Linked DNA regions of Homo sapiens: region 2 is linked to region 1. A link means that fine-mapping ties the variant in region 1 to the expression of a gene that starts in the linked region. Tissue or cell type: tibial artery. Region 1 holds a variant in brackets; the other region holds the start of a gene. All regions are shown on one strand. Distances are between the middles of the regions.

Region 1 (2,764 bases):
TACCTAAAGCAGGGCTGACATCATATGATGATAAATAGCTGTTACTTACTAAATATTTACTCTGTGCCTGACACCGTGATTATAAATAAATGTTCTCGTTTGATTCTCAGAATTGCTGAATTAGTCAGGTGAGGCTAACAGCCATAACAAACACCCTCAAATCTCAGTGGCTTGATATTTTAAAGGCTGATTTTTACCCATGGCACAGTATGGGCAGAAGGCGGGGGAGGGATTCAGGTTCCTTCCTGAATAAACTCACCCTCCCCAGGACCTTGAAGTTCTTCACTGGATCTTCTGCATCTCACTGGCAGATGAGGGTAGAGGGAGCAAGTTCACATGGCAGGGACCCCATGGGAGGGTTCTTAAGATCTAGGCCTGGATATAGCATGCATCACTCCTGCCAACATTCCATTGGATAGAATGCAATCACATGGCCTGCCTAGCTGCAAGAAAGGTTGGGAAAAGTGCACAACGACTATGACCAGGAGGAAAAAGAAAGTGTGAGGAACACATAGTCTCTGACCTAAGTACTTATCATTACCCCCATATTACAGATGAAGCTGAGTTTTAGACAGGTAAAGCAACTTGCCCAATAGCACATAGCAAGTAAATGGTAGAATCAGGATAGGTTTTTGGCATGGTAAGTTCTTGGAAGAGCCCAAGAACCTGACTACAAGTTATTGAGCTTTGCAAGTAGAGCAGAAACTGTCACATTTACGGAGCACGTTCTACAAACCTGGGCATTTTTTTTTTGAATTTGTGGACATTACAGTGAAATATGTAGACATTATAGTTTTCAACACTACGATGGAAAGACAATAGTGGGAACAGGGTGAGGACAAGGTAATCTAAAGGTGATACCTCTTTAAGTACTTGATTCCCCGCAAAGGTTCAGGTCTGGTCCCCTGGCTTGCTCCCCAGGTGTTAGATGATAGAACTGAGCTCATCTTTTGCTGCACGCAAGCATGCACCCTTAACCACTGCAGACTCTCTCAAAGATTTATTTAAGATTCCCTTGTTTAACAGCACCTACTTTGATATGGCTACAGGGGAACCTACCACATTTTAGACTTAGGTGCAAAGCATTAGATCTTATCCCACCACTTCCTTGTCTCACAGAGCAG[T/C]GGTAGTCCCAGTGTGTCACCTGAGGCCTAAGGTGATGAATTTATTTCCCTACGCTGTGTTCAGGCCATGTAGAACTATCAATATCCACATAAACTCACCATGTTCTCTTGACTCCCGGCCTTTGTACTCATTGTTCCCTCAGCCCCAATGAGTCTAGAATCACTGGTGTGGACCTAGATGTCGGCAATTTTCTTTAGCTACTCAGGTGGTTCTATTTTATGGCCAGGGTTGAAATCCAATGACAAGATCAGTCTAAGCCAATCGTGGCCAGTCACATTCTCCTTGGCCAGATCAGTGAATGAACATACTCCTTATCAATCAACATAGATAGGATTTTGGGAAGTCAATTCTCATGATATGATCACTATCAGTTCTCTGATTGTCATAGACTATCTTGAGTGTATTTTCAAGGCCCCCTTGTATTAGTCATTTCTCACACTGCTATAAAGAAAAACCTGACACTGGGTAATTTATAAAGAAAAGAGGTTAAATTGGCTCACAGTTCTGAAGGCTATACAAGAAGCATGGCAGCATCTGCTTCAGGGAAGGCCTCATGGAGCTTTTACTCATGGCAGAATGCAAAGTGGGAGCAGGCTTCTAACATGGCAGGAACAGGACCAAGAAAGAGAAGAGAGAGGTGCTACATGCTTTTAAACAACCAGATCTCATGATAACTCACTCACCTGCTATCACAAGAACAGGACCGAGGAGATGCTGCTAACCCATTCATGAGAATTCTGCCACCATGATCCAATCACCTCCCATCAGGCACCACCTCCAACAATGGGGATTACAATATGACATGAGATTTGGTGGGGACACAGATCAAAACCATATCACTCCTATAACACTTTCAGCTTGTTCCTATCATAGAATTCTTCCTTGTTATGCAATAGGCCAGCCTGGGAGATGCTGCCCTAATGATTTGGAAGACTGTCTACTCCTATGTGCCACTGTAGCTCAGTAGGGCACCCTAGGGCCACCGCCACTCTGCAGAACACTGAAGTGGTGACAGTGGGTTCTAGTTCTCTGCACCAAGTCTAAAATGTGGTAGAAAGGGGAACTTTCAAAGCATTTTGTACACGTTGTGAGGAAAGAATGATTGCCGCTTTAAATCTTGACTCCTCTGTACACCACTTGGCCCTCAATATAAAATCTGTAAATAGCCCTGCCTTTCTACGTCTCCCAGCTCCCCACCCTGCATGGATTCTGTGTCCAGACAAGTGAAGGTTTCTTGTGGCTGACCCTGAGTTTCCTGCTACTCTGCCTTTGGTCACACTGTTTGCTTTCCTAGTATGCTCATCTCTTCCCCTTCCCAAACTCCTCAAATGTTACCACCTTAAACTAAAGCTAAGGGTTTCTAGGTTCTCCAGCGGAGAGTGGAGTCAAGAAAAGGGTTCTAGGAAAATTTCAGGGTGTGGATGCTGCATCTGTTGATCCAGCCACCTAGGCACTATAGATGTACCTTAGGCACAAAGTGGCTCTGTGTGTGTAAACTGGAAGGTCGGCACCCCACAGGTGCTGTGACATCAGAAGCTCAGACCTGATTAGTGCAGTTGTTCCAAGGGTGGGCACAGTCCTGGAGCAAGAGAGAAAAAGAGAGAGGGAGGGAGAGACAGAGATAGACACACACACACAG
Region 2 (2,764 bases), 27 kb after region 1:
CAGCACAGGGTTGTTGGAAGAGTAAAATGAAGCAACAAACAAGAAGATGCTAGGGATGGTAGAAAAATGCTAATAAATGTCAAATATGGATAGAAAGGAAATTGGATATGAGGTATAGGTCTGTTTAGTTTTATTAACAATAAAATAATTATATATTTAATATATTTACCAAAAAAGAAACTGCTTGACAAAATAATTCCATATACTATAACGTCAAATTGTAAGGCTTCCTATTGCTTTCACTTTTTTTAGTAAAAGTTTTTATTGAAGTATAATCTGATTGCATTTTGGAATAAGTTAATTTACAATAATTTAATTTATCTTATAGCCTTTTAAGATCACATTCAGTGCAATGGATAAAGCAGAATGTATCTATAATTTATTGTCAGGGTTAGAGACTTGAACTGATAAGGATATCGTTATCTACTGTTTAGGGCAAAAGATGTAAAATGACTGTGCATTAAGTGCCAAGGTTTTCTCTAAAAAGGGCCCACTGTAAACGCCAGAAGCGTGCCAGTTCAATTCAACAAATATTTAATTAGCACTTGTGATTTCCAAGGCACCGTTTTGGGTACTGAGGAGGAAGCAAAAAATGAATAGCTGCTAATGCCAGCGAGAGACAAGACATGAACCAAACAACTAGAGTGGAAAGAGTGGGGCGTCGTGATGTAGAAAACGCAAAGCACAGGAAGAACCTAGTGGCGCTTAAAATAATCCAACTTTTCCTGCCTTTTTTCTTCTTCTTTTTAAGATTCTATTTTGGATCCCTTTTCGCATGTGCCAGGTCGCTTGTCGGCAGAGAATCCTCAACCCTGAGAAATCTCTCCTCCTATTCTTTCTTTCCTCACAAATTCGATGAGCTCTTCTGCCATCAGCACTGCTTTTGGAATGGTATCTATTGTGTGGGTGGCGAAACGATGGAGAGATATTTTTGTTCTAATTATGAGAACTGTTTTACTGGGGGAAGGAGGGAGAGGCTGATCTGAAGCGCTGATGAGCTGCTCTGAGAGGATCCTCCGAGGAGGCGTTACTAAGGTTACTAGAGAGAGGACGGCAGGTGATAGGCACGGTAAAACAAAATATATTTTCAAATGAGAGGCGTGGGCTAAGCAGCAAGCAGTGCCAGCGGTACTAGATGCCGGATTCCCTAGAGGGGAAAGGAAGGAGGCCCAGGGAAAAACTGGGAGCCGCGACTTGGCGAAAGCTGGAAGCCTCTTCGTCCCTTTCCGGGCCGTTTCTCCCGCTGCCCTTGTTTCCCGGAGCTGTTCTGGCTGTAGCACAAGGTCGGCGCACTCGGGGGACGGTGCCATTTAGATGTAACACGTGGCCGTGTCGGACCGGAAGTGGTGCCCAGTCGGGACCCGTAGGGAGAGGCGGGTTGCGGGCGGCGGCGGCGGCGGCGGCGGCGGTGGTGGTTGTGGCGAGGCTGTGCGGCAGGGCGCACGGGACCTGTGCTGCAGCGGCTCTCTCAGGCCGTGGGTCGTCGCTGCAGCTGCCGGGAAAGAAGGAAACGACGACTCCGGGGGCGAACTTGGCACACAGGGAGGAAGGGAAAGGGTGTGTGAGGAGGGCTGTGGGTATATTTGGCATCAGGGAGAAGGACCTCAAAACTTGTTTTTCATATAGTACTAGCTGATCGTCGGGTTTTTTTTTGTTTTGGTTTGGTTTTTTTTTTTTTGGATGACAGATTCTGGAGACACCTGGCATCTCCGTTTTTGAGTTTCTCCCCGCTCTTGTCAGTTGATTCGTAGGCCTGAAGTGAGTGAGAGCTTTTTAGTTCAACCAGTGAGTTAAGATAGGTATGGGTCGGATGGAGCGGCCAGCGAATAAAGAAATGGGAGAGTGGGAGCAAGAATAGGAAGTCGTGTCCTGGGGCGAGGGAAAAGATGATGATGATGATGTAACATTTACTGGGTTTCACTGTACAAGACACCGTTAAAACCCTTTAGATGAGGCAACTCTTTTAATCTCCATTCGTATGAGGTCAGCCATCTTACTAGCCTCTTTTTATAAATGAGGACACTGAGGCTTGGAGAGGTTAAGGAACAGGCCCAAAGAAAGACAAATGGAAAGTGCAGAGCCAAGCAGTGAAATCTAGTAGGCTGATCCTAGAATATATCTCTAAACACACTACAGCTGTCCCCCATCAAGATGTAAAGAACGTGAGGACATAGGACAAAGAGTGAGAGGACAATATGGCTTGAACAGATGTGGTAAGACAGCTGGAGTTGACCTAAAAAAGGGTGTAAAATCCAGGTGTGTAAGGCAATAACAGATGTAAGGGAGGGTAGAGTTGGAACTCGGGCTTTCAAACCTTCATCTCCAACCTTAACTAGCATCTTCCTATCTAGGATTTTAGTGGGGCAGAGAAGAGAGGTATATACCCACACACCTATGTTTGAAAATGGAATTACAGACTTTAAAGGTTATTTAAAGATTTAAACAACTTAAAGATTATTTCATGTAGCTATCTTATTTAATAGATGAAGTCCAGGGAGATGAAATGACTTATTCAAGGTAGCCAGGACTAGAAACATGTCGTTTACCCTAGATCCAATGCAATGAAGTTTAGAGAGTTCTTTCCTCTTTTTCCAGCTGCACTTGCTGTCGTTATATTAGTTTTAACAATTTGATATATCATTTAACCTGGACTGTTCCTTCCAGCCATGTAAATTAGTTATGTATGACATCAAATAGTCCATCCTTCCTTCTTAGTGTGTGTTCCAAATTCAGTGCAAAGCTGGAACTAGGAGCTTCTTCCAAT

What was found. PIP is the estimated chance that this variant, and not a neighbour inherited with it, causes the effect.
Region 2: it holds the start of FRA10AC1, and the variant in region 1 is fine-mapped to the expression of FRA10AC1 in tibial artery (GTEx, PIP above 0.99). The same link has a PIP of 0.9 or more in skeletal muscle.

Annotation. Positions count from the first base shown.
Region 1 is chr10:93,728,039-93,730,802 of GRCh38, reverse strand. No RefSeq gene overlaps it. Among named protein-coding and RNA genes, the nearest start is that of FRA10AC1, 27 kb to the right of the region's middle. The variant T/C (reference allele first, on the strand shown) is at 1,125.
Region 2 is chr10:93,701,168-93,703,931 of GRCh38, reverse strand. It overlaps FRA10AC1 (FRA10A associated CGG repeat 1), which reads left to right and starts at 1,340. Exons shown (of 14, transcript NM_145246.5): 1 at 1,340-1,557. RefSeq lists an enhancer at 1,052-1,351.